2 separate regions of the Homo sapiens genome follow, and region 2 is linked to region 1. The links come from fine-mapping of genetic effects on gene expression. Tissue or cell type: esophagus muscle. Region 1 holds a variant in brackets; the other region holds the start of a gene. All regions are shown on one strand. Distances are from middle to middle.

Region 1 (5,227 bases):
AACAAACAGCCAAACACCCTGATTGCAAAACTTTCTAAAATGCAAACATCTCTCCCAAGTGCCAAGACAGAAAGCTTTTTAAGTTTAATTAAGTTTTTCCAAATGTATTCCAGTCATCAGAGAAGTACAACTCCCCATGAATTTTGCCTGTGGTGATAAAAAGGTTTGAGTGTATTCCATGAGGTGACGACCATATGGGCAGCTTCTCTGAAAGAGATAATGAACAGAGCTATATTTCAGAGAATTTCAAGGAGTTTTTCAGCAGGAAAAGGTATTAAAGGTTATCTCAGATAATCTGAACTATTTTATAAAAATCAAATTTTAAAGGAAATCATCTCGTCTCCCTTCTTACACATATTATGATAACAGCACATTCAACCTGGGACCCATAATTTTATCCCAATTCTTTACTTTCTGGATTAAATTGCTGGGGAGGGGGAGGAAAATTGGCATTCGGAGCATGCAACGTTCTGACCAACTGCTGAATCTGAAGGGAATCACAAGCTTCATTTAATAAGATGTTTTTTCCTCCAATTCAATTTTGACCTTCACCTTGCTCCTTTCACTTTCAAGTCCACATACCACACTCACTGCTTTAGTCATCACATAGTATCTCTTCAGAGGGGGAGCTCACTATGTTGCCCAGGCTACTCTTGAACTCCTGGGCTCAAGTGATCCTCCCTCCTCAGCCTCCCACATAGCTGGAACTATAAGTGTGTGCCACCACACCCTGCTTCTTTGATGCATTTCAAAAATCTTATTTCAAAAGGTGTTTAAATCTAGGATGTCACTGACTACATAACTAAAGTAAAAAGTTGACTAATTTAAATAAATTAGCATTATTTTGCCTTCATTCCCAATTTTTGTCTTAATATTCTTCCTTTTTTTTGGCTTCAAAAATCTGGGATGGAAGGGTTGTTTAGTTGATTTGATCATTTGTTGATCAGAATAATTATCTCTTCATTTCTAAAATAATACAAACTCTTAACTTTAAAAGATGTTCTTTTAAAATAACTCACTGCAATATCCTCATTTTAAGTGGATCCAAAACATTTAGACAAGATGAGACTTACTGCATCCTCATACTTTTTAGTTTTATTCTTAACCAACTCAAATATTATGCTTTCCTACATTTTCAATTCCTTTCTTTAAAAATAGCAGTTACCAATTAGAGGATTCAGAAAAATCAGTGAATGCAATAGGAAAAAATATTTACATTTGTGTATTTTCTATAATTCATTAATATTTGGAGATTTATGTGGTTTATAGCTATTGTATCTTGTGTTTGACTTCAGTGTGATGTCCTCTACCAGCTCATTCAATTACATTGTTTCATTTATTTTCAGGATAACCATATGAAAATATTTTTTAAATCCATACATATGTTCCAGTTAATTTGATCTAAAATGCAAAACATTGACTTTTCACTTCATAATGCAGATTCTAGCAATATGTGTCTTCCATGAGCCCTCCTTTTCCAGTTGTTTTAAGGTGGAGTGGCTTTACCAAGGACAGAAGTGTCCACCTCCTTTGTCTCAAGCCCATTTTCAAATGTCTGAAAAATTACGTCCTTTCGCAATTCTCCACCAGCTTAAAGGGTTACGGAATGCTATAAGCAGAAAGGACATCCAGGGGTCTCAACTAATAACTAATGCACATTAGAACCACTTGGACATGAGGCATTTTGTTAAAATGCCAATATCCAGGCCTCAACCCCAACCCAAATGAGTTAAAATTACTTAAGGGGAGAACCTAGGAATTAGTACTTTGTTTTGAAACTTTCCAGGTAGTTCTAATATGCAGCCAAGTATGAGAACAACAGCAGAAAGCACGTCAGCTTTGGAGTTGAAAACACCTGAGTTTGAAACCAGTGCCTTAACCCTGTGCTATAATTGAGGATTGTAAATTGATATAATTGAGGATTATAAATTAGTAAATTGATATAATTTACTAATTTTTCTGAACCTCAATTTTCTTATTGATGAAATTGAAGTAATTATCTTATACAGTTAATGAAAGAATTACATAAAATGGCATATGTGGAGGAACCCAGCACAATATTAGGCAGAAAGTACATTTCCAGTAACTAATAGATTTCCTCACGTGTCCTGTCTGACATTCACAAACTGCCATTTCGCTGAGAATGATGATGATATTAGAAGTATAATGTCCTACATCACACAATCAAAGACATACCTATCTGCTTATGTTTTTCAAATAACAAGCTATGAGGTTTTCTAGAAAAGACAGTGGGCACATTTTGCACAGATTACATTCACCAATGACAAGCTACTAGAAATCTTCCCCCAATATACAGCACAATTTGTTCAATGAAAAAAGGCTTATCTCGTGCCTAAGAGTCAATGCATAAGAACTTTTGAAGCTACATTTTTCAATAGCATATTGAAATTCAAGATTAAAAGTAATTTGGAAAAAATTCCAGAAATGTACATTATGTTCTCATTCTGTGAGAACGTGTCACAAAGCATGTGGGCTTAGCAACTACACTGAAGCTAAATAGAGCTTTTAGGCAAGAGTCAAATTATGAATTTATACTCTAGCCAATTACTCAAAAGCACTTCTGTGTCCGAC[T/C]TGAGAGACCACGAGATGTTTTCATTGTCCATGATCTCATTTTTATTTTATTACTTGTTATTTACAACCTAAGCCACGAGGGCAAGTTAAAGGTCCCAGAAGAGGGAATAATTTCAGAAATTGGAAACACAAGGAAAAAGGTAATAAAATGCACTTGCTCTGACTCCATAATTTGGAAGTAGGTGATAACTGTATCTAGGAATGTCCAGCATCAATAAAAGTTCAATAATGTCATTGAGATCAGTGAAAATTGTTTTGCTTATTTAATAAGACACGGTGATTTCAAGGCCATGGTCTGTACATCTTGGATTTATGTGCTTCCTTAACTAGCGCAGTTGCTGATGTTGAAGTTGCATTCCTTAAAGTTTAACTCTGACTTTATATGAACGCAGGCTGGGCCTTTGCCTCACCTATTCTAAATATGTGATCGTTTGGTGCTGGTGGGAATTCAGATCACTTAGATGGTTACATAGTAGTGCAGGGAGGCAAAGAGGCTGGAGGAAAAGCAAGGGAGCTATTCGTAGCCAGTGCCTCCTACTCCACTGAATGCTGCCCAATGGAATTAATAGAGACTGCTTCTGGTTTGATGCACTGCTGCCTATCCTAAACTAGAACCATAACTTAATTGATATTAGTCATACATTATATCTGATTACCTCTAGAAGAAATTGTCATAAGTGCACATTAGTGAGGAGTAAGGAAGGCTTTTGCTAATAACACTACATTTCAGACTGAGTTAACAATTAATCATCTACCCCTGACTTTTACTAAAGGGTAAGTCATCTATTTCATATGGAACAACAAAGACACTATGCATAATTTCTTAAGAAAGGAAGCCCAAAAATGTTATATGTCAGATTTTGAAGCATTTGCTTTCAACCTCAAGTTTCATTTATCTCACATGCTTAAATTACTCCTAACGCAGTGATTGTCAAAGTGTGGTCTCCTGACCAGCAGTAACAGCATCACCTGTGAACTTGTTACAAGTGCAAATTCTCAGGCCCCATTCCAGAATGAATGAACCAGGAACTCTGGTGGCAGTGCTGTAAATTTGAGTTTTAACAATCTCTCCAGGTAATTATATGTACACTAACATGTGAGGTCCACCACTTTAGTGAAGTTGACATGTAAAGATACGCATTAATTGTCAGATACTACAGAATAATCTCAGGAAGCTGCATTTACAGACACCATTAGTTATGTCATGCTTCTTTCAATATTATCTGGTGTCCTACTCTGAAGAGAGAAGGACTGACCCAGGATTTATTCAAAATTCATATTTAAGCACTTGTTAATTGCTAGGTATGAAAGAAGCAAGGGCAATTCAGATAAGTACTTGCACTTGGGAGGATTAGATGAGAAAAAAATTATAATAGGGCAATAAAATATCACACCACTACTGACACCTGTATACTTAAATGAACAATCACTACTGACACCTGTATACATAAATGAACAATTTAGAACCAGGAAACAAACCATGCCACTTTAGAAGAAACTCAAGTATTCACTTGGGGTGGCTGCACACAGAAGTCAAAGGGTTATTCAATATATGATATTCATGTTCATCTTCTATTCATTTAGGTGCAATGAGAAGCACACTTGGCAGCAGAGGAGCAACCTAGGTTATTAGTGGCCATCCTATGTCCAGCAATAAGGCTACCTGGGATTGTATGTTAATTCTACCATGGGATTGTCATGACCTGCAGTCCCAAGCCTACTCCAACTCTAGGCCACTCCTGACCATCACAAAAAAATGTTATCATCAGGGGCAGCCTCCGCCGCAATACCTTAGAGACTGAAAACAGGTTCCACTGCTCCATCTGATGCCCCTGAACTACTGTCTGCTGTAGGAAAGTGCTGGTGACTCCATATTGCTTACCAGTAAGAAAATACTATTTTCCCCATCATCCCATCATTAATTATCTAAACAGAGCCTCGGTGAATGCCCCTTTGTATAGTGCAGCTGCCATTCAGTTCATCAGGCCAAGCCCTGTCCTATTTGGATTTGGCTTGCTTTCCTTCTCAGACTGCCCATAATGCTCTCATTTTAGAATGCCTTGTGCTCAATCCCATCTGTATCCAAATATATCTCCCAAACAAGCCTTGACTGGCTATATGACATTTTCACATGACTAACTACTTTGTTTGGGATTACCAAAACTACCTGTCAACATGAAAATGTCATCAAAGAATATCACCCATTAAGCCACTTACTGCAACTAAAATATGAACTCAGGTAAAATTATTGGTGTAACAGGCCAGGCCTTACCTAGGGAGAATGGAACTTTCAACAGTATTTTCTCTGTAAGCATCTGGTCAACCTAGAAGCAGTCTCAGAAGACTATATTTTTAAAATTAGGGTTGGCACAAAGTCTAAAAGGTGACTAGAAAGAATCATCAGATGACAGATGTCCCATGTCTTCTAAGAGCTCAAAAGCACTGTGAGAAATCACAGACCTTGGGATTAAACCTGAGCTTTAATCTTAATTTGCAGTGTGACCTTGGACAGTTTAACTGTTTGTACTTTATTTTCCTTATCTGTAAAAGTGAATATCAAAATATCTACTTTGCAAGGTTTCTGTCCAAATTAAATGAGAGAGAATATAAGGGTGTGTTTAACTGTGCCAGGAAC
Region 2 (5,227 bases), 71 kb before region 1:
TAGAATCTGTGTGTACAGATATGCTACATCCTTCTCAGCACTTACAATAGTATATAGAAGTGCAGCTTTTGCTTGTTTGTTCCTTCTTTCTTTTCATGGATAAGTTACTTGAGGGCAAGGTTTGTATAATTTTCTACATGTATTCTCAGTACTGAGAACAGTGTTCAGAATGTAAAAGGCACTTAGAAAATGTGTTTTTAAAAAATAAATGATTTATAAATGCAAAACCTGCTTTTTCTCCCCAAAAGCGGGAATTGATCTCCCACTGACATGTAGTTCCCTAAGTCCGTGCATGATAACATATTCTCAGGAGAGTGGAGGAAGAGGTACACATTAAAGTACCAATATTAAAGACAAAAGAGAAATGGGTGTCTGGGAAATTACACCTTGGCACAGAAATTCACATGCAGCTTCATCCTTAGATCAGACACGGAGCGCAAAGGACTCAGCAAATGAGGAAATGTCTCCCCAGAACTAGACTCAATTCATCAGCAGTTGTCATTTTCAACTGGTGTTTCTTGTCATGGAGGACAGCCGCTCTGCCAGGCAAGAATTTGGCCACTGTCAAGGTCATTGTCCATTCTCAGATCTGGCACTGAGTCCATAGTCTGGCAAGCCTGGCTTGTCAAAGTGGATTAGGTGGGCTCTGGGAGGTGTGCTTTGGCTGCACTCCCAATTCTCATACCGAAAGGCTGGTGATGTTCTCTGAGGACGGCTGCCTCTTCAGTCTCTCTTTGGATCTGAGTCAAGCTCCCTGACCTTAGGCCTGTGCACTATTTCAGACACTGCAATTGCCCATGCCTGCCCTGCTACAGCAATAAGCTGTGTGTCATCATCATCATTAGTATATTCTGGCAGGAAATACATCAGTTAACCTGAGGCTAAGGCCCAGAATCAGAAAATGAGTTATAGAAGACAAAAACAATGAATGAATGGATGGATGAATGAATGAATGAACCTCTTTTAAAACACATGGGTAATTATATGAAATCCCATCTCTGTTTCGCTCTGTCAGTTCCTTAAAATTGCTTAAATTAATAAAATGTGTATGTAAAAATGGGGTTATATTAAAAGGCAACCTAAGTCTTTTCCAGAAAATCAATGAACTAGTCATATTACCCAGGGGAAATAACTATCTTTGCAGGCCTTTTGGCCCGTCTTAATTTCTGTTTGAACTCCCTAGGCTTTCTCACCTCAAAAGAGGTAGTTGGATGCAGTTATTGTTTATACAGAGAAGAAAGAAAAGGGGTAGTAACATAAATTTGGAAGTTAATTTCAAAATCCAGTGTAAGAAAAGGGGAGATGGTCTGATTGGCCTAGAGAGGTGAACAGTAGTTCAGAGGCACTCTTATTTATTCTATCCCTTATTAGACTTGTGTATTTCACTGTTAAATACACTCTCATGGTGGAATGCGGAAAGAAGTGAGAAAGTGGCCAGAGTGCTTGTAGCTTTGTGGCTTGTGACTCTTCTATCTTATTCTCTCCCACCCTTCTCTCTTCCTCCATTCACATTCACACAGGTATCTGCATCTATCCATGTACACCTAGATGTAGAAATACATCTATAGATACATATTTATATGTGTAATATATAAATAATCTATAAAAATAGGTAGGTATATGGATATATTGTAAACTAACACAGCAAATTTTTGTAAGCTGGAATAGGATATTCAGCAGGCCAGCTGCCCAAAGGGCTCTACCAGGAAAGCCATCTTGTCTGACTTCTGTGATAACCTCATTGTTAATCTGGACCACGCCTAGTGTCCTTCATGGTAGCCCTACTTTTAAGTGGCAGGGGTATGAATGTAAAAAGGACTTTCTAAACCTTCCTGAAATGTCTCCTTCAGGGAGCCCATCACCAGGGACGCCAGGAACAGCTTCCAACAGGGCCCAGGGGAGGCCGCGGGAGAGGACCCCTTCCCTCTCAGAGAGACTCGTCAGGAAACAATTCCAGACTCTGACCTGGGAAGAAAAGAACAGGACACTTCTCTCCTCTAGGCTTCCAGCTGCTGCTTCTGAAAATATAATCCTCTGAGACCCTCCCCATTCCCAGCTTCCAACCAGAGGGATGAGAAGTTCGACTGGGAATCACCCTAAGGAATCTCCGCCCAGTTTTCTGGAGGAGGAGATGGGAGTAGCAGGTACTTGTCTCAGGATGGGGATACCATGGCTGGCAGCGCGGACCAGAGCCCAGCCTGCCCCCCAGCTCCTTGGGCCCCGTTTCCTTCGCATCCCGCACACCCACCCTCCTCGCGAGGGCAGCGTCCCTAGCACACGCCCTAGCACCACTCTCCTCTGACGTCCGCCTCCGGATGTCTGACGATCGCCCCCGCCTGCCGCCCTTATAAAGGGGACTTTTCCCAATACTCGATCGATTCCCACCTCGCCCTGCGCCGCGCGCCCTCCGCCGGCGCCAACACCTGTCAACTCTGCGCGCTCCCAGGTTCTTGGAGACGCCGAGTGAGGAGCCGCCCTGACCGCCCGGCCCCGCTCCGCACTGCACCCCGACCCACCCCGCACCCTCCCTTTCTGCACCCTCGCACCCACACCCCTCGCGGTTCCAGGGGGCGGCGGCCCCGGGCGGAGCGCTTTCGCGTGCAGCCACCACTCCAGGTAGGAGCGGAGCGGGCATTCCTGCGCCTACGGGCCCGCACCCTCGGAAACGCCTTGGGCACCGAGCCCGGGCGGTTTTAGAGGGGAGGGACGCGGCGTTTTTCCCTCTCGGTGGGATGCGAGGGCGGGTTTGCTGTCTGGCACCGTTGCTGTCAGGGTGCAAGAGGCTACAAAGTCTGGGCGCAGGAAATGGGTAGAGGGGGCCGAGGAAAGGCCGCAGGGGGCCGGGAGAGCATCGGGCTGCTGCGGAGAGGAACTTGCCTGCTTGGTTGCTCACAAAGGCAGAGAAGACACAGCCCGCGGGCGCTTCTTTTGCCTCCTTTAAATTCCAGAGAGGCTGATTCTTTCCCCCAACGTCTCTTCACCCACCTGCACGCACAAATGTCAGAGTTTCCCCCAGAAACTTGTATGTGAGAGTTTGGGTTCATGGAACAGCTGTGGTCACAAAGGTAAAAAATAAATAAAAATAAAAATAAAAGGGGACAAGAATTTCAGAAGGTGAATGCTTTCGAACTTGACATCTGTCTTCTAAGAGTCTTGATTTTAATATCTTTGAGGCTTCTGATGTGCTTTTAGGCAATTGTGTTTAAAACAACAGCAACAACAACAACAAAACCTTTTCCTGTATGTACCATTAATGGGGGGTGATGAATTGAATGAAGGATATTGGGCGAAGAAGATCAAGAGAATGGATCCTTTCAACAACAAAAAACATACTTAGTTGCTATAGTAACTTGAACTACAGAAGCTTGTTGAAAATGTGGAGTTTGATGTGTTTTTGAAATGGATTTTTCTAAAGATTTTTTTCAGATATTTTTATATCAGATTACTACTGAAGCCATTCTCTGAAGTTGTTTGAAAGGACAGATAAAAGAATGAATAAATTAATGAATATTTTAAAATTTTCAGAATGGTCATTTATGAAACACTTAACACTTCTAGAATAAATAATTCTAGAAGAGTAACTTAGTTCCAAAACGCAGATACAGCGCTACTCTTTGTAAATGATTTGACAGTTACTGAGTTAAGATATACACGACAAGGTTAATTTTAAATTTAAAGCATGTATGAAACACACAAGGATTATGATTCCATTTGTTAAACTACATTTCCGTTTTTTTTTCTGTTTCTTGCAAACTCAAAATAATGTTAAATTGTTAAATAGAAGTAGGATAATGTAGTGGACACTTATTGTTAACTGCCCGTTTCACGTGTGGTTTCAGGGTTGTACTCTTTCTGTGAGTGGCACAGGATCTCGCATGAGCCAGCTGGTTTATTCCTGGCTGCCTACATGTGCATAGTGCTTGACTGGTTTATAATGCATCCCTGTATTTTCTTCAGAAGACTTAATGAAGTAGCCAGCTGCAGAAGAATCTGGATCATTAGATAAAAATGGCTTTCCATGTGGAAGGACTGATAGCTATCATCGTGTTCTACCTTCTAATTTTGCTGGTTGGAATATGGGCTGCCTGGAGAACCAAAAACAGTGGCAGCGCAGAAGAGCGCAGCGAAGCCATCATAGTTGGTGGCCGAGATATTGGTTTATTGGTTGGTGGATTTACCATGACAGGTACGTTCAGACGCCGCCGGCTCCATGCAGTCCTCCCTTCCTTGGCATCTGTGAGTGTGCAGCGTGTGGCTTCAGAGTGACAAAGCAAATGTTGGTCTTTGTCCTTTGGGGATTCTTTATGTTCACTAGTTATATATATTTTAAAATAATTTTCTATTGATTTAAAACCTAAAAATAAATTGGTTTCAACTCAGTAGTACTTGAACAAAAATGATTTTATAATAAATCACTGGACTGAACAGTCATGAAACAAATCTTGGCTCCCTGGGCTATTGAGTGGGTGGAAACAGAGTAAAAACAAAGAGGTGGGGGAATGGGAAGCTGTCCTAGTATTACAAGCTATGTATCTGCTAATTAATGTGATAGGCAGCATCTCAACGTGTCCGGTAATACATGCATAAAGTTGTGACTTTGAGATTTAAATAAGTGCCAATGAATACCATCTAGTGATGGTTTTTAATCTGCATAAATAAATTTGGGGGTGATGATATTCCCAATTGAGTGATTCCCTGTTTTGAAACCTAATTCTTTCATTTAATAACTAATTCCTCACAGGAAGACAATCACATGTTATGAGTCCACAGCACTAATAAAGAGATTTCATGAACCTTGTTATAAAAGGGAAAAGCTAGGGTGTGTCCTCATAGGAATCCCCAGGCCACCATCTGCAGTCATCTCTCATTCAAACCTTCTTTGTGTTAGCAGGAGCTGATATTCTTTCTTACTTTGCACTAAAGTGGTTCTGTTTAAAGGGTGATTTGTTTCTTTTTTATATTCTTCTTGGTCGTTGAAAATAATTCTGAAAAACATCAACTTAGAATTATATGTTTAATATTTAATACAGTTGCACTAACAACACATATTTCATTATACAGTCTTAGTAGAGTTTTTAAACATTTGCAACATAGCAAGAACTGTGAGCGTTCATTGGAAAAATATCCCATGGGAAATGATATCAAGTGATGCCCAATTTCAGTCCCGAAGGGCAATTTTAAAATGATTCACCGTGTATATCAGATAGTTTACCAAACCAGTCTGGGG

Direction of the effects. Positions count from the first base shown, and alleles are read on the strand shown. Sizes are in standard deviations (SD) of each study's normalised expression.
With allele C in place of T in region 1, the expression in esophagus muscle of the gene that starts at base 2,377 in region 2 is lower (moderate effect, 0.44 SD a copy in GTEx).

Evidence for each region. PIP is the estimated chance that this variant, and not a neighbour inherited with it, causes the effect. A credible set is the group of variants that fine-mapping cannot tell apart.
Region 2: SLC5A7 starts here. The variant in region 1 is the best candidate, but not a certain one, in a credible set for the expression of SLC5A7 in esophagus muscle (GTEx, PIP 0.69).

The regions. Positions count from the first base shown.
Region 1 is chr2:108,055,645-108,060,871 of GRCh38, forward strand. No RefSeq gene overlaps it. Among named protein-coding and RNA genes, the nearest start is that of LINC01593, 5.5 kb to the left of the region's middle. The variant T/C (reference allele first, on the strand shown) is at 2,593.
Region 2 is chr2:107,984,148-107,989,374 of GRCh38, forward strand. It overlaps SLC5A7 (solute carrier family 5 member 7), which reads left to right and starts at 2,377. Exons shown (of 9, transcript NM_021815.5): 1 at 2,377-2,616; 2 at 3,958-4,186. The coding sequence starts at 4,009.